Homo sapiens: one gene and its partners. The protein of the gene in region 1 interacts with the protein of each later gene in a biochemical or structural test. Each region holds a gene or a part of one and is shown in the gene's direction. Other genes may lie near its edges.

Region 1 (7,033 bases):
GGGAAATTTTATTGGTTTTTATAACTGAAAAGTCCAGACTTATCTTTCCATCTCTCAATTCTGTTTTCTAGTGTATGTTGGCTTGGTTTTAGGCTAGGCCTTTTCTAAATGGTGTAAAGATGGCAACTCTATCTTACTGGCTTATCAACTCAATCAGGAGAAAACTCACTTTTCCGTAGATTCAGCTGAAGTCCTGAAGCTGGTATTCATTGACTCTGTTAGGCCTCCATAGTGTCTTGTGCCCACTCCTGGATCAGTTGCTTTGGCTGGAAAATGCTGTATTCTTTTTAGCCTGGCCAGACTTGTATGTTCATTCCTGGGGCTAGTGGGTGAGGTCAACCCCTTCTGAACTGGTCAGCCTCTTCTGGATTGAGTGGAGTGGATACCCAAAGGAAAAAAATGAATGTGATGTTTTAGAGAGAGAAATAACAAGAGCTCAATATACTTTTTGCATTCCTCTGGAATTTGTGGTATTTTAGGATGGAAGTAGAATGGTGGTCAGCTAACAATAAGACAATTCTTGGTGTTTTTACATTAACTACAGGTAATAATTAAACTTGTGCGGTAATTACATGGGGAAAATCCCTCTCATTAATTTCAATACTAAATATGGTATCTTTCCCTTTTTTTGCATTATTAAGCTTACTGAAATATACATAGCAAAAAATAAAATACAGAAGGCCAGGCGCAGTGACTCATGCCTATAATTCCAGCACTTTGGGAGGCCGCGGTGGGAGGATCACTTGAGGTCAGGAGTTCGAGACCAGCCTGGCCAACATGGTGATACCCCGTCTCTACTAAAAATCCAAATAACAGTTCAATTCCTTGAAGCAGTAAAGCTTTGAGCTGCACTGAGAGGAGACTAGACTGCCTAAGTCATTACAGCTAATTAGCCGTTAGCTCTTGTGTGGAAAAAATGGCAGAGGAGCATGAAGCAAGTGCTGAAGATGCCTCAGAATTGTCAAGAAATGTTATAAATAATCTCTTTCTCTGGTAAATAAGGGTAACTTTTTCGACCACATTAGCTTTTTTTTTTTTTTTTTTTTTTTGAGACGAAGTCTCGCTCTGTCACCCAGGTTGAAGTGCAGTGGCACAATCTCAGCTCTCTGCAACCTCTGCCTCCCGAGTCCAAGCAATTCTCCTGCCTCAGCCTCCTGCCTCCCAAGTAGCTGGGATTACAGGCACCTGCCGCCATGCCTGGCTAATTTTCGTGTTTTAGTAGAGATGGGGTTTCACCATGTTGGCCAGGCTGGTCTTGAACTCCTGACCTCAGGTGATCCACCTGCCTCAGCCTCCCAGGGTGCTGGGATTGCAGGCATGAGCCACTGCACCTGGCCCACATTAGCTTTTGTTGATATGATCCTGTGAGGAGTCTTGCCTCAATAAACCAAAGGTAGACCAAATGTTCTTTTTTTCTTCCTTTATACCCCTACTCCCGCTATTTCTAAGGTCTCTGTCCTTATAGCAGTTCAAGATCCTTATGAACAAAACATTCATACCCTTTGTCTCTTCCCACCCTTTTCAGTGTTGTATTTAATATTTCTATGTCATGGCCTTAAAATTTCAGAAAGGGGAGAAAGCCTTTCAGGGAGCCCTGTTTATTCTGTTGTGCCACTGAGTTCACTTGGTCTTGAATGAGGAAATGTAATCAGAAGAGTGTGAATGCAGGCTCAGCCAGCTCTACTAAACACCTTTGAGGTATCTATATTTCATATTACACAGTAGACCTGACCGTTGGAATTCGTGTTTCTTCAGTATTATTTTAAGAAATCAGGTAAACAGTGAAGGTTAGATATAGCATGAAGCAAAGACCATTTAATTTTTAGTGGAAGAAATATCAGTATTTTTAAGCCTAGAAATAAATAGATTGCTTAATCTATGTTAAAAACCCACAACATACAGCTGAACTGCTTCCAGTCCTGATTTGCCAGAGTCCAAATCTAAGATATGGGCTTTTACTTAATTTATATGTAGCTGAGAAATATCCATCCCCAGCCCTAAGTCATAGAAGTCCCTTGTCCTCACCCCAGTGAATGAGAACTAGACTGCCAGCTTAATTCTTGGGAAATCCATAATTCTTGTCTTATTATTTTTCAGTGCCACATTGTTATTACAATTAGTAGGTGAGTTCTCTCTTTGACTTCAATAATTCTTTCTACTTAACCTGTTTTCTTAAAGGTATTGCAAATAAAAGTATATCAACAGATTAATGCATTCCAGCTGAACGTTTTAGCCTTTTTAGTTTCAGCTATCCACAAATCAAGCCACCGAGTCCAGCTGGTAGGTTTGTAACCATTTTGCCAAAAATGTCTTGAGTTTGGGGACAGGAATTGGAAAATCTTAACCCAAAGTATTTTAAAATGTATTGTATTTGAGAAATGGGAAAAGAAACAACCACAGGTATATTACAGCTATTGTGTCATCTGCCCTCTTGTGTCTAATACCTGTCCTTTGAACAGCCTCTCCCACTAGGTCTGGATGGAGGATACCTTAAAGTGAAATGACAGACCAGGAGAATAACAACAACATCTCAAGTAACCCCTTTGCTGCTCTTTTTGGCTCCCTGGCTGATGCCAAACAGTTTGCGGCAATCCAAAAAGAGCAGCTGAAGCAACAATCTGGTAAGTGGAGGAGCCAATAGCAGCAAATAAGATGACCTAGAATGGGGTCTTCCCAAATTAAGTATTCTTTGAGTCCTTAATTGCAATTGGAATTTAAGTTTGGAACAAAAGTTGGTTTTTGTTTGTTTGTTGAGAGCAGAAATTGGGGTTTTTTGTTTGTTTGCTTTTATTGTTGGTTTTGTTGTGAGTCCCTCCCCTCCGCTGTCCTCTCCACTGTACAAAAAGAGACCAGGTAACAGGTGGTTCCATAGTAACAGATGCCAGTCGTGATCCCAAAGCTGTCAGGCTGTTTTCTTTAAAAGAAAAAAAAAATCACCTAGTAAAAGCTATTTAAATAAATGTTTTTAACATGGGACACAGAGGTGGTAAGTGTAGGTGTAGAAAGCAAGTCATGTGCAGCTATAGAAAGCAGATGTAAAAGGAAGAACTATAAAAGCTTTTTGACCTGTAGGCAAATGAGACTTGTTCTTAAGCTCAGCACTTCAAAGGCCCTCCCAAGCAAAGTGCTTCTTCTGTTCCGATGAGTGGCATCATTTGTAGCTTAGTCCTGTTAGGACAGACTTTTTTAAAAAATCTGATCCTTAGCCTTACTATGAAAAACATCAGAATAACATCTCAGTAATCAGAAAAAATGGTTTTCTTTCAGGCACCGAATTTAAGATCAAGTCCAGCTTCCTCCTATAAGGAGACATATACACTAGAAGAATTAGGATTTTTCTCAAATATGTTAGTCTTCTGAAGATATTCACAATCTTTCAAACCAGAAATTGCTCCCCTTCTCCTCTCTCCGAAAAGAATAATAGTGTTTTTCTTTTGAGAGAAGGAGAAGTGTTTGCATTTTCCCTTTATTTTGTTTATTTAAAAAAAAAAAAAACACTCAGGTGCATAGCTGACTTTTGGCCTTTCAGTTAGAAAGGGCTGAAGAAAAAAGAGGTAAAGGCAAGACAGATAAGTGATTGATGCAAGGGAAAAACAAAATCAATGTTGATTTTTTTTAACATGGTATTTTCAGTCTCTGAAATCTCTCCCAGATTTCTATGATACGGGGCCAGAATGGGAAACTCTGGTTTAGAAGATTGTAGGGGAAAAAGCAGAGTGAAAAATAGGAAAAATAAGGAATGAGAAAGTATGATTTATGAGTATGTGGTTGAGGGAAATTTTGCTAAACAGATTCTTAGCTTCTGTCACCATTGGAGGTCAGAGAAAAACTCAACAGTATAGCAGCTGAGCAACAGAACGCTTGTCCTTCTGGCTATAAACAGACATAAATCTGGCTAGAGTTGGGAGCATTGCAGGCACATGCCCTTCTGTTACTATTTTGGCACCTCATCATCCTAGTTTGTTTACACTGAGTTTATCATGCCACCAGGTCCAACCTGTTTCCACTAGCAATTAGTACTTTGCCAAAACCTTTGGCTTCCTATGTTGAGCTTATACTCACCACACTGAAACAACTCTTACTTTGAGAGTTTTACCTGGACTTTCAGACTAGCCATTCTGTCAATAGAGAAAAGTACATATAGACTCATATGTGGCATATAGTGAATAACACTACTTTTATGTAGTCATTCAACATGAATGATGGGGCTGGGCGCAGTGGCTCGCGCCTGTAATCCCAGCTCCTTGGGAGGCCTAGGTGGGCAGATCACCGGAGGTCAGGAGTTCGAGACCAGCCTGGCCAACATGACAAAACCCCGTCTCTACTAAAAACACAAAAATTAGTCGGGCATGATGACAGGCGCCTATAATCCCAGCACTCTGGGAGGCCAAGGTGGGCGGATCACCTGAGGTCAGGAGTTTGAGACCAGCCTGGCCAACATGGTGAAACCCCATCTCTACTAAAAATACAAAAATTAGCCGGGCGTGGTGGTGGGCGCCTGTAGTCCCAGCTACTTGGCTGAGGCAGGAGAATCACTTGAACCTGGGAGGTAGAGGTTGCGGTGAGCCGAGATCACACCACTGCACTCCAGCCTGGGCGACAGAGTGAGAGTCCATCTCAAAAAAAAAAATCAAAGGATGGGAGCAGATTTTGAGGACAGAAGTTTAAAAAAAAAAAAATCGAAGGAATTTCATCAATAAGAAAAAAATAACAAGAAAGAATAAAAAGGTACAAAAGATGTGACATGCAACTTATAACCAAATGATTAAAAAATTTATTCTCATCAATCATTAGAGAAGTGCCAATTAAAACAACCATTAAATTGTTTTTTTACCTATGAAATTTGTGAAGATTCAAACAGGCACTCTCTCATATACTGTTGGGTTTGCATGTAAATCAGACAGTCTCTTTGAGGGTAACTTGGTAGTAAATGTTAACTTTTTTTTTTTTTTTTTTTTGAGACGAAGTCTTGCTCTGTCACCGAGGCTGGAGTGCAGTGCAACCTCTGCCTCCCGGGTTTAAGCAATTCTCCTGCCTCAGCCTCCCGAGTAGCTGGGACTACAGGTGTGTGCCACCACGCCTGGCTAATTTTTTGTATTAGTAGGGATGGGGTTTCACCATGTTAGCCAGGATGGTCTCAATCTCCTGACCTCGTGATCCGCCTGCCTCAGCCTCCCAAAGTGCTGGGATTACAGGTGTGAGCCACCGTGCCAGGCAGTAAATGTTAACTTTTTAAATGTTCAAGCTCTTTGATCCAGCAGTTCTGCTACTGTGAATTTATCCTATAGAAATACTCATACAAGTAAACAAAAAGAGTTAAGTTGTATTGTATTCAGTGCAGTATTTAAAATCATGAAATATTAGAAACAACCCTATTGTTCATCAGTTGAAAAGTAGCTACATAAACCACAGGGCATGCAAAAGATGTGATACAATACAGCTATTAAAAATAGTGAGGTAGGCCTCTAAATGGCCTAACAGGGAAAGGTGTTGGTGCTGATTAAAAGGCAAGCTGAAAAGAGCTATGTATAGTATCCCATTTTTTAAAAAAATTAAAAAGATAGTAATGAATATTAGCACCAGAAAAGAAAAAAATTCTTGAACACTGTTAAGTGTCTTTAGGGAATTGGTTCAGGAGACTTTCTATACTATATTTTTCTGTACAGTTAAGAACTATTAAAACAAATGTTATCTCTTAAAATCAGGGAGAAAAGCCATACATTTAAAATAATTAAAGGCATTTTGATCTATTAGGTAATTCTTTGTTCACTAGGATTCTGTAGAGAAGATAACTTTGCTATTTCTGGCAGTGTGGAGTATAATTATGGATAGAAATAAAACTTTTGCTTTGTAAAATGTGGTAGGATTTATAGCCAGGAATTTCAAAACCCTATATTTAACTTCCCTGACTTGAGATGTTCACTAATTAGATGATTAGCTTGTTTTACATCTGAAATTATCATCTTCTTGGTTACATTTATTATTTTTGGTAGCATGCTTGGTTCTCTCTTAAAGGGGTGTAACATTTAACAGTATACATTTTCTGGCAGATGAACTCCCAGCTAGCCCAGATGACTCGGATAATAGCGTGTCAGAGAGCCTGGATGAATTCGATTACTCTGTGGCTGAGATTAGCCGCTCATTCCGATCACAGCAGGAAATATGTGAGCAACTCAACATCAATCACATGATCCAAAGGATCTTCCTTATTACTCTGGACAACAGTGAGTTACAAACTTATAGCATTATTCTACCCTTCCTATTTGAGCTTGGGCTAGGGGCTTGCTCTTTGAAACTGGTTACAGCTAATGGTTAGATACAAACCTACTCACTGCACTCCCTGGAACTCAGGGTTTATATTTCAGTGAACCTTTTGGTATGACCTAAAAACAGTATTTAGATGCAGATCTAACTTTTGTTCCCATTTCAATACTGACTGCACTATATAGCTACTTGCCTTTACTACCTTAAAAAGGAAATGGGAAGGGTAGCCAAACCCATTTTCTTCTCAGAGGTAACCTAAATATTCAGATGGAAGCCTTCAGAGGCATCAGAGAGTGTTTGCCCTCTGTGCCCTGTCTGTGTTTAAACCCCAAGGTTGGTACTAATGTCTGGGATTTACTCTTTAAATGTCATGATGCTAGGTTTATAACAAATCCCATTCTCTGTGACTAGAGGGGGAAAAAAAAAGATTTGAATCTTTAGATGTTGCTTTGTGTATCAGGATCATTCTGGTATTACTTGAGTCAGATTTGCAGTTCAAGAGTGATGCTGTCAAGATCAGTTGTCTGTATAAAACAGAAGCATTATCCTTAACCTATCATATTAAAACCATTTCCCAGGTGATCCCAGCTTGAAAAGCGGGAATGGCATCCCTAGCCGTTGTGTGTATTTGGAAGAAATGGCAGTAGAGCTAGAAGATCAAGACTGGCTTGATATGAGCAATGTTGAGCAGGTAATATTCTTACGTTCCTAATGTGTGCCCTTAGCAAAAATTAGCTATGCGGCTGAATTCTGCTCACTGTTCTCCAAC
Region 2 (6,935 bases), on another chromosome or scaffold:
TTTTACCCCAATGTGGATTCTTGCTCCAACCTAGTGATTCTCTACTCTGGCTGTGCATAAGAATCACCTGAAGAGCTTTTACAAAATACTGATGTCCAATTCTGCTCTGGGCAGCTGTTTTAATTGGTGTGGGGTGGGACCTGGGCATTGGTATTTCTTACGAGCTACCCACCTGGGTGATTCTAATATGCAGCCAGGATTGAGAAGCAATCTTCTAAGAGTGTGGTAGTGGTGCATAGGAAAGAGGCTGGCTTGCAGGAGAGCTTTACTTTTTGGTGGTTTAATGGTAACAAGCTTGCTGATGATGTTTACCATATAAGAGAGAGGGCCATATGTCCGGATTTGCCAGAAAACTAATTGATTTCTTTGCAAAACATGCTAACATTTAGTATTGACATGATGTATTCCTACCATCTCTCAGGACTGTAAGGAAATCTCAGGCAATCATCTATCTAATCTATTCCCCTGGATTAGATGAGGTTACAGAGTAAGAAATACTTATATGGATTAGCAAAACTTAAAGACATGTTTTTCTTTTTATTATTTTTTTTGAGACAGGGTCTTACTCTGTTGCCCAGACTGGAGTGCAATGGCGCAATCACAGCTTACTGCACCCTCAACCTCCCCAGGATCGGGTGATCTTTCCACCTCAGCCTCCCCACTAGCTAGGACTACAGGCATGAACCACCACGCCTGGCTAATTTTTGTATTTTTTTTGTAGAGATGGGTTTTCACTATGTTGGCCAGGCTGGTCTCAAACTCCTGGCTCAAGTGATCTGCCCACCTGGGCCTCTCGAAGTGCTGGGGTTACAGGTGTGAGCCACTGTGCCTGGCCTTAGAGACATTTTTAGAGGAAAGATAATGGACAACCAGAATGGCAGAAAGCCTGGGTTTCCCTTTTAGGGAAAAAGCAATTTCACTGTTCCAGAAGAAATCAGAGCCCCAGCCAGCCTGCCCTCCCACAGCCCCTTCTCTGAGGATTCCTGGCATGTGTCATCCTCCAGGGATGACTGCAGGATGGATGTGGCTGTTGGCGGCAGCAGCAGCTTTTCCTACCAGGGAAGCTGGGTCGGTAGACACTACACTGCTATTCCTGGGGTGGGGGTGGGGATTTCCGTGTATGTTTTATAGTTAGCTGGCCCCAAATCCGTGTGCTTTAGACCTAACCCTCTTCTCGGCTTCCACTGCCTTCTTCTCTCTCCTGCCCAGCCTGGAGTCGCAGGGGCAAGGCCTAGTTTTACAATGGCTGCCAGCCTTTCCCTTAGGGAGCCACATGCATGCGCTCACTTTTTCCAGTGGTCTTCTCAGTCTGATTTAATGGATATACCGGGACTGATGACACATCAGCATGGGATCCTTCTTTTGCTTCTTGGGTAACTGTCCTATTAACAGCTGTCCCAGGCAAAGGGAGGGGGAGAGTGTTGGGGGAAAGGAGGGGGTGGCTTCCTGGGTGAAGAAGGACACACCCTGGGTTTTACAAGGTTAATCAGCAGGTTCTGGGAAAGCTTGCACCTGCTCAGACTTGATCTGGAACTCTAGACAGAATGGAAGACAGTCTTTCTGTCTCCACTCCCTTCCATGGAGCATCAAATATCCTGGGCGCCCACACCCTGCCAGGCCTAGGCCTGCTGTTGCGACTGAGTTTGTCTCTACACCTTTACTCTCTTCGGCCCTTGCAACTCTTTCCCTTTTTCTGCCCACCTTTGTGAAATGGCTAAGCAGGAAACTCCACAGATAAACGATTGTCCAGTTTTAGTTTGAACTGTTAGGACTGAAAATTGTTCTGTATTTTTCTGTCAAAAAAAGACCAACTTTAGTATGCTCTTTTCACCTTCTCAAAATTGTCTTGTAGTTAAACACTGTAGTTGAGCCTTTATATCTCTCAATTTTATGTTTTGTTTTGTTGAGGAAGCATCTCACTGTTGCCCAGACTGGCACCATCATAGCTCACTGCAGCCTCAATCTCCCAGCTCAAGAAATCCTCCCACCTCAGCCTCCTGAGTAGTTGGGACTATAGATGTGTGGCACCAAGCCCAGCTTGTTTTTTTGTAGCGACGGGGGTCTCACTATGCTGCCCAGGCTGGTCAAGCAATCCTCCCGCCTCGGCCTCCCAAGGTGCTACTGTGAGCCACTGCGCCGGGCCCAGTTCTATGTTTAAAATACTTCCTTCTCAACCTTATTTATTTTTAGAGTTGATGGCCACACCTAAATATTCCTCCTTTCTTATACAATACCAGTCTTTATCTTCATTGTCTCACTACTTCGGGGACTGAATGGTCTCCTATTTTATTGTTAACATGCCATATCCTTCAAAACTGTACATCCTCCAAGGTGTGGTTAATTTCTGCTTTTAACAGGAAAATCAGAGGCCTGCCTGCTTGAGTCCCCCTTCAAGTACTCAGTATTTGAGTGTCTACTAAGTTATAACAGTTAACGCACAAAATTCTAGTCCTCATGTTGTTTATACTCAGGTATTTATTGGGAGACACGCGTCAGTAGTCCCTGATAAATGGAAAGATCGCTTGAGTCCAGGAGTTCCAGTCCAGCCTAGAATAGGTAAAACATGCTCTCTGAATTAGTCTTTGAAACTGGTAAACTAGCTCAGAAGTTTTTTTAAGAATTCCATGAGTGGTTTGCTGGTGTACGTTTATTATATGCAGTGAAAGTACTTAATCTGCAAACCACCCCAAATTAAGCCCCTAACTCGCAAGCACAAAATGGACTCGATTATTTACTGAGTTATCAGTTGGCCTTGTCCTTAGTTGTACAGGGACTAATGACTCACCTATAAATAATGGGCTCTTCTAAGAAGACACAGTTGAGTTGACACCTCTTTGTCCTATAGCTGGGAGGAACGCATTGCAAACGCCAACCCAATGATTCCCTAAATGGGGTCTTCGCATCAGCTGCGTTAAAATCACCCCAGCAGGCAGGTTATCCGGCCGCCACTCCAGGGTCATTAAATCAGACTCTCCAGTGGGACCTCGGAATTCGTAGCTTAGCAAGCTCCCCAAGTGATGCTGGGAGTAAACTAACGTTTGAGAGTCACAAACATGTTTTGGCAATATAACCAGATGGGACTGGAGAAATTAAAAAATGAGAAACATCCCTAAAAAAGCAAGACTAAGCTGCGTGGGAGGCCAAACGAGGGGGGTCCTTTGGGCTGTTTCTACCATGACAAAAATCGCCATTACCCCACACCTCTCACACCGCCAACGTTCCGCCAACGTTCCGCCAACGTCCCACCACCCTCATGATATCCGTCCGCGGTACTGCTCCAGCGAAGGTACCCTTGCCTGGGCCATGAGGCGCAACCGTCCCTCACAGCTGGGGTGGCTTCTCCAGGTTCGCACCGAGGGGAAGTTGGGGTACCGGTTTCCGCCGCCAGCACCCAAGATGGCGGCACGAGCGTCGCAACCACAAGAACCACATGCTTCGTGTCCCGCCTCAGCATTCTCGGGTCTCACTAGACTTTTGCAAGTCACTGTGGGAACCCTCAAGGCGAGGGTGTTCCGCACTCTGGCGGCGATACACCTTCCTATTCCCTGACCTAGGCCTTCATTCCCCCGCCACAGAAAGCGCTGGAAGCGCCCAACCTGGATACTTCACCCAACGCCCAAGCCCACTAACATCGCCCGCCGCGAAGGCGCGGCCGAGGGGCCCAGAATGCCAGACACTAGGGCCTTCGCCCTCCTCATTGGTGGGTCCATACCGCGGGGCGGGCCTAGGTACTCATTGGGCCGGGAATTATGTCAGTCTTGGGAAATCAGGTCCGGGGATGAGGAGGTACACTCAGCCATTGGGCCCTCTCTGCTGCCAATCAGAGGGACATCCGTCGACGGCCCCGGCCTCGGCTCGTTGATTGGAGAAACTGTTCCTAGGGTGTTTGCGGCGGGCGGGTTTCCGAGTGCGGTAGCAGGAGGGGGCGGGGAGGTAAGCGGAGGCTCCGAGCTCTAGGCCGGCCGGCGGTGGCGGCGGCGAGGCCGGGACTCGGGCTTAGGGCCTGCTGTGGAGGCAGCGGCGGACGCCGAGCTAAGCAGTGGGTATCGGGCACATTCCTTTCCCAGAAGGGAGGGTTGCAGCGCCGCGGGGCCGAGGCTTATGGGGCGACGGGATGGTGCTGAGGTGCAGGAGGCGGGGGCCGAGCGGGGTTCCCGCCAGAGCCCGGCCCTGGGCCTGACAGGGAGGGGCCCCGCGCGGGGCCGAGAGGAAAGCTGGCTCCGGGGTGGGATGGACTGGGCAGGGTTGAGGGCACGAGAAGGCGTGGTGTGAGGCCTGGACTTGGGAGTGGGGTGGGGCCATCGGGACGGAGGGCGGGGTGGGGTTTGCTGTAAGGGTGGGTCAAGGCCAGGGAAGTAGCACTTGTTCGCTGGCCGCCCCTGGAGGCTAGAAGCTCCGGCGCCGAGAGTGGGCATGGCGACTTGGTCTCAGCCGGACTCGGGTATCCGGGCAGGGTGGGACCAGCCTCAGGCTATGGGCCCTGCACCTACTTGATTTTTAAGGGACTTTGTCCGGTTCCTCGAACTTAATTGGCTCCTGGGAGGTTTTAGTAATAAATTGCGTGAGAACGGGAGGGTAGCGTAAGCAGGAATTCTGGGTCGCAATTGTGTTTACTCTGACCAGAGAGAGGGAGTGTGAGTGTGTGTGTGTGCGCACGTTCGTGTGTGTACGTATAGCTCGCTCTCCCCCTGTAGAATGAAGTTGGTAGATGGGTCACAACGCAGGAGAGGAGAGGCGGTATGTCTTGGTTTGTGACATTAATGGAAGCTCAAAAGTGGAGACCAGAAACAGATTTACTTCCTCTGCACTGGGCAGTCTGGCTAGAGAACGTGGCCATATCCTTCTGCTTTGGCTCAGAAGGTCATATGAATGAAAATAAAACCTGCCTATGCAAATTCTGGACGGAATAGTCCTGCGTAGTAGGGCCCCCACCATCCCTCTCCTTTTTTTCTTTCCTTTTCTTTTCTTTCTTTTTTTTCTTTTTTTGAGACGGAGTTTTGCTCTTGTTGCCCAGGCTGGAGTGCAGTGGCGCGATATCGGCCCACCACAACCTCCGTTTCCTGGGTTCAAGCGATTCTCCTGTCTCAGCCTCCCGAGTAGCTGGGATTACAGGCATGCGCCACCACGCCCGGCTAATTTTTGTATTTTTAGTTGAGATGGGGTTTCTCCATGTTGTTCAGGCTGGTCTCAAACTCCCGACCTCGGGTGATCCGCCCTCCTCGGCCTCCCGAAGTGCTGGGATTACAGGCGTCGGCCCTTTTCCTTTTTTTTCTTTTGTAAGTTGTGAGGATAGGAAAGGGAAATCAGATTTCAAAGTTCAGAAAACAAAAGGCATTCTTCTTCTGGGTGAAGTGGTGGCCTGAACATTGTCCTTTTGTCCTTCCACACTCTCACTGTTTAATAATCTTGCCTTTTTGAACTGAGAAAAGACAACTGTTATGGGTGGTTTTCTCCCGAGGGGTGAAAATCCAGCTTTACTTTTAAGACAGGAAATGGGCTTCTCATGTGAAAATAGAAGCTGGGTAATGCGCCTGTAGTGGGGGAGGAGGGCTGGTAAATAAAACAAAGGTGTAAGATATTTTGGATGACCTGGTTATTGTCTGCTTATTCAAACCAAGCTACATTTTAGGATATTGCACATTTAATATTCAGTAACTGAGATCATTCGTGATCAGTAGCTTTCTTTGATAGTTCTTCTATGATCGGTTGCTATATTTTGGGTTTTTTTTCTGAGAGTGTAAGTAGTCCTTTCTTCCTGTAAAAGTGGCCTTTAGGCCAGGCACAGTGGCTCACGCCTGTGATCCCAGCACTTTGGGGGGCCGAGGCGGGCAGATCACCTGAGGTCAGGAGCTTGAGACCAGCCTGGCCAACATAGTGAAACCCCATCTCTACTAAAAATACAAAAATTAGCAGGGCGTGGTGGCAGGCGCCTGTAATCCCAGATACTTGGGAGGCTGAGGCAGGAGAATCGCTTGAATGCAGAAGGTGGAGGTTGCAGTGAGCACAGATCACGCCACTGCACTCTAGCCTGGGCGACAGAGTGAGACTCTGTCTCAAAAAAAAAAAAAGTGAAAGTGTCCTTTGAATGTGTTTTCTACCTTCTACTGTGAAGGTTTTCCTACCCTGATCATGATGTGAAAAGTATGGAATCTTATCCTGTTGCTTTTGTGATTCCCATTTCAGGTTTCTCTGGAAACCCCCCTGGTAAGTGTGGAGGAGGCGGGACACTCTGACCCAAGACGAAAGGCCTGTAGCTCCAGCCAAAGAAAATAAACCTTAGGAGGGAGAAGGAAAAAAAAAATCCATCAGCTGTTCCTGAGAACAGCCTGCATTGGAATCTACAGAGAGGACAACTAATGTGAGTGAGGAAGTGACTGTATGTGGACTGTGGAGAAAGTAAGTCACGTGGGCCCTTGAGGACCTGGACTGGGTTAGGAACAGTTGTACTTTCAGAGGTGAGGTGTCGAGAAGGGAAAGTGAATGTGGTCTGGAGTGTGTCCTTGGCCTTGGCTCCACAGGGTGTGCTTTCCTCTGGGGCCGTCAGGGAGCTCATCCCTTGTGTTCTGCCAGGGTGGGGTACGGGGTTTGACACTGAGGAGGGTAACCTGCTGGCTGGAGCGGCAGAGCAGTGGCCTTGATTTGTCTTTTGGAAGATTTTAAAAACCAAAAAGCATAAACATTCTGGTCCTTCAGCAATGCTTTCTCTGAAGAAATACTTAACGGAAGGACTTCTCCAGTTCACCATTCTGCTGAGTTTGATTGGGGTACGGGTGGACGTGGATACTTACCTGACCTCACAGCTTCCCCCACTCCGGGAGATCATCCTGGGGCCCAGTTCTGCCTATACTCAGACCCAGTTCCACAACCTGAGGAATACCTTGGATGGCTATGGTATCCACCCCAAGAGCATAGACCTGGACAATTACTTCACTGCC
Region 3 (3,996 bases), on another chromosome or scaffold:
GCTGGTATTTTGTTATTTTCAAGTTAACCAATCATTGTTTATACCCATTTCATTTCTTAACAATATAAGCTTTCTTAATAGAGCATAAGGGAAAAGGTGATAAGGAAAACATTTAGTTTCTGGGTCCAAGGTAGAGAGGAAAATTCAAACAATTTATTTTTGGAGTGGAAATTATTATGATTGTCTAGTGATTTTGACCAGCATCCCTCAACAAACTCACTGGTCTCCACATATTTGGAAAACACATCGTTGAACCAAAATTTGCTTTTACCAATTGAATAACATTTTGCTTCAATAAGTATTACTTGAGCTCCTATGAAACACTCAGTGTAGGTCGTAAGGAGTGTGAAGAAATCGTTTCTGCCTACAGAGTAGAATAGGACAGACTAAAACAAATGAAAATGGATGGAATAAGATTAAAACAAAGAGCCTTCGCAGGTCATGGAAGACTCTTCTTGATCTGGCACCTGCCATGGAAGACTCCTCTTGATCTGGCACCTGCCTGCCTCAGCAGCACCTTTCTTTTCATCCTCTCTCCGTTTCTCAAAACAAGCCTTTATTAATATTTACATATATGCATGCATGCACGGATGCATGCACATCATTACTATTCCAGAAACACCGTCTACCTCCATTTCCCCAGTACATCATGCTATATCACACTTCTGTGCTTTTATGATACCATTCCCTCCAATTTAAAATCTCAACACATAATTCAGATGTTAGCATTTGGGGCAAGCCTCTCCTGATTACCCCTTCCCCCAGTGGAACTACATCTGCCCATGCGGGGCGCATATCATTCTGTTTATTGTGCGCTTAGGTGTCTACTGTACTTAGCCCAGCCTCTTCCACCAGACCATGAGCTGGTTGAGTAGAGAGATGGGGTCCAAGGGGTTCAATATCAGCCACAGATTTCAAAAGATACCTGTCGACATGACTGGAATATCAAAAGCTATTTGGGATTAATAGTCTAGATTGAGTTTTACAGGATTCATCACATGGAAATATACCAGTTTCTGTTATGAATTTTCTAGATGCGCTTTCTGAACTGTAGAAAGGGACGGAAGGACCCTTCCAAGTCCATCCTGGATGTTGGTGTAGAAGAAGCTATAAAATTCAGTGGATTTGATGAAAAGATGTTTCTGAAGCGAGGAGGAAAATACATATGGAGTAAGGCTGATCTGAAGCTGGATTGGTAGAGCGGAAAGTGGAACGAGACTTCAACACACCAGTGGGAAAACTCCTAGAGTAACTGCCATTGTCTGCAATACTATCCCGTTGGTATTTCCCAGTGGCTGAAAACCTGATTTTCTGCTGCACGTGGCATCTGATTACCTGTGGTCACTGAACACACGAATAACTTGGATAGCAAATCCTGAGACAATGGAAAACCATTAACTTTACTTCATTGGCTTATAACCTTGTTGTTATTGAAACAGCACTTCTGTTTTTGAGTTTGTTTTAGCTAAAAAGAAGGAATACACACAGGAATAATGACCCCAAAAATGCTTAGATAAGGCCCCTATACACAGGACCTGACATTTAGCTCAATGATGCGTTTGTAAGAAATAAGCTCTAGTGATATCTGTGGGGGCAAAATTTAATTTGGATTTGATTTTTTAAAACAATGTTTACTGCGATTTCTATATTTCCATTTTGAAACTATTTCTTGTTCCAGGTTTGTTCATTTGACAGAGTCAGTATTTTTTGCCAAATATCCAGATAACCAGTTTTCACATCTGAGACATTACAAAGTATCTGCCTCAATTATTTCTGCTGGTTATAATGCTTTTTTTTTTTTGCCTTTATGCCATTGCAGTCTTGTACTTTTTACTGTGATGTACAGAAATAGTCAACAGATGTTTCCAAGAACATATGATATGATAATCCTACCAATTTTCAAGAAGTCTCTAGAAAGAGATAACACATGGAAAGACGGTGTGGTGCAGCCCAGCCCACGGTGGCTGTTCCATGAATGCTGGCTACCTATGTGTGTGGTACCTGTTGTGTCCCTTTCTCTTCAAAGATCCTGAGCAAAACAAAGATACGCTTTCCATTTGATGATGGAGTTGACATGGAGGCAGTGCTTGCATTGCTTTGTTCGCCTATCATCTGGCCACATGAGGCTGTCAAGCAAAAGAATAGGAGTGTAGTTGAGTAGCTGGTTGGCCCTACATCTCTGAGAAGTGACGGCACACTGGGTTGGCATAAGATATCCTAAAATCACGCTGGAACCTTGGGCAAGGAAGAATGTGAGCAAGAGTAGAGAGAGTGCCTGGATTTCATGTCAGTGAAGCCAAGTCACCATATCATATTTTTGAATGAACTCTGAGTCAGTTGAAATAGGGTACCATCTAGGTCAGTTTAAGAAGAGTCAGCTCAGAGAAAGCAAGCATAAGGGAAAATGTCACGTAAACTAGATCAGGGAACAAAATCCTCTCCTTGTGGAAATATCCCATGCAGTTTGTTGATACAACTTAGTATCTTATTGCCTAAAAAAAAATTTCTTATCATTGTTTCAAAAAAGCAAAATCATGGAAAATTTTTGTTGTCCAGGCAAATAAAAGGTCATTTTAATTTAGCTGCAATTTCAGTGTTCCTCACTAGGTGGCATTTAAATGTCGCCTGATGTCATTAAGCACCATCCAAAAAGTCTGCTTCATAATCTATTTTCAAGACTTGGTGATTCTGAAAGTTTTGGTTTTTGTGACTTTGTTTCTCAGGAAAAAAAATATTCCTACTTAAATTTTAAGTCTATAATTCAATTTAAATATGTGTGTGTCTCATCCAGGATAGGATAGGTTGTCTTCTATTTTCCATTTTACCTATTTACTTTTTTTGTAAGAAAAGAGAAAAATGAATTCTAAAGATGTTCCCCATGGGTTTTGATTGTGTCTAAGCTATGATGACCTTCATATAATCAGCATAAACATAAAACAAATTTTTTACTTAACATGAGTGCACTTTACTAATCCTCATGGCACAGTGGCTCACGCCTGTAATCCCAGCACTTGGGAGGACAATGTGGGTGGATCACGAGGTCAGGAGTTCGAGAACAGCCTGGCCAACATGGTGAAACCCCGTCTCCACTAAAAATACAAAAATTAGCCAGGCATGGTGGCGTACACTTGTAATTCCAGCTACTCAAGAGGCTGAGGCAGGAGGATTGCTTGAACCCTGAAGGCAGAGGTTACAGAGCCAAGATAGCGCCACTGCACTCCAGCCTGGATGACAGAGCAAGACTCCGTCTCAAAAAAAAAAAAAAAAAAAAGCAAGAGAGTTCAACTAAGAAAGGTCACATATGTGAAAGCCCAAGGACACTGTTTGATATACAGCAGGTATTCAATCAGTGTTATTTGAAACCAAATCTGAATTTGAAGTTTGAATCTTCTGAGTTGGAATGAATTTTTTTCTAGCTGAGGGAAACTGTATTTTTCTTTCCCCAAAGAGGAATGTAATGTAAAGTGAAATAAAACTATAAGCTATGTTAAATACATTTTCAGCTGTTTTATCCACCATTATTCACAGGCCACGCCCACACCACCCCCACCCCCACCACCACCACCTAATGCACTGTCAGGATTTGCAAGGCCTTAATGTTTAAAATATTCAAATGTTAATTTCTCTTAAAGGGGAGAAATAAGGACTTCTAACATTAGAGTAAATTCAAATTCAGCCTATATAGTGTTTTGCTTTATGTTTTCAGTTTTAAATGTGAGTGTTAGTTTTGTAAAACACATTTAATTGGGAAAGCAAGGAACAATTTCACGGAGGTATCTTATGTGTTAAGGGAAGATATTTTATGTTGCATTTAATTCTTTCTTTTTTTAATCCAAAATTTTATTTGACCATGTTTGTCTAGAAGTGACAATATTGTTTCTTACGTTAACTAGAACTGGAGCCTGGAGATAGAAAATAAGTCTAGTTACATAAAAATTTTAAATTTATGCACATTTGAATTTATCAATTATGAATATATACACTCTACACAATGAA

Evidence for each region. Proteins that work in one complex are often made in the same cells at the same time.
Region 2: of the proteins of UBE4A (region 1) and NFE2L1, one has a biochemical effect on the other in vitro, tested with the Homo sapiens proteins (one study listed by BioGRID).
Region 3: the proteins of UBE4A (region 1) and RSAD2 form a complex in vitro, tested with the Homo sapiens proteins (one study listed by BioGRID).

What each region holds. Positions count from the first base shown.
Region 1 is NC_000011.10:118,362,581-118,369,613, forward strand, and holds part of UBE4A (ubiquitin conjugation factor E4 A), read left to right. Parts: intron 1-2,459; 5' UTR 2,460-2,500; coding exon 2,501-2,621; intron 2,622-6,050; coding exon 6,051-6,224; intron 6,225-6,842; coding exon 6,843-6,955; intron 6,956-7,033.
Region 2 is NC_000017.11:48,044,424-48,051,358, forward strand, and holds the start of NFE2L1 (endoplasmic reticulum membrane sensor NFE2L1), read left to right. Parts: upstream 1-3,935; 5' UTR 3,936-4,039; intron 4,040-4,357; exon of another isoform or gene 4,358-4,441; intron 4,442-6,183; 5' UTR 6,184-6,695; coding exon 6,696-6,935.
Region 3 is NC_000002.12:6,894,744-6,898,739, forward strand, and holds the end of RSAD2 (S-adenosylmethionine-dependent nucleotide dehydratase RSAD2), read left to right. Parts: intron 1-1,034; coding exon 1,035-1,199; 3' UTR 1,200-3,496; downstream 3,497-3,996.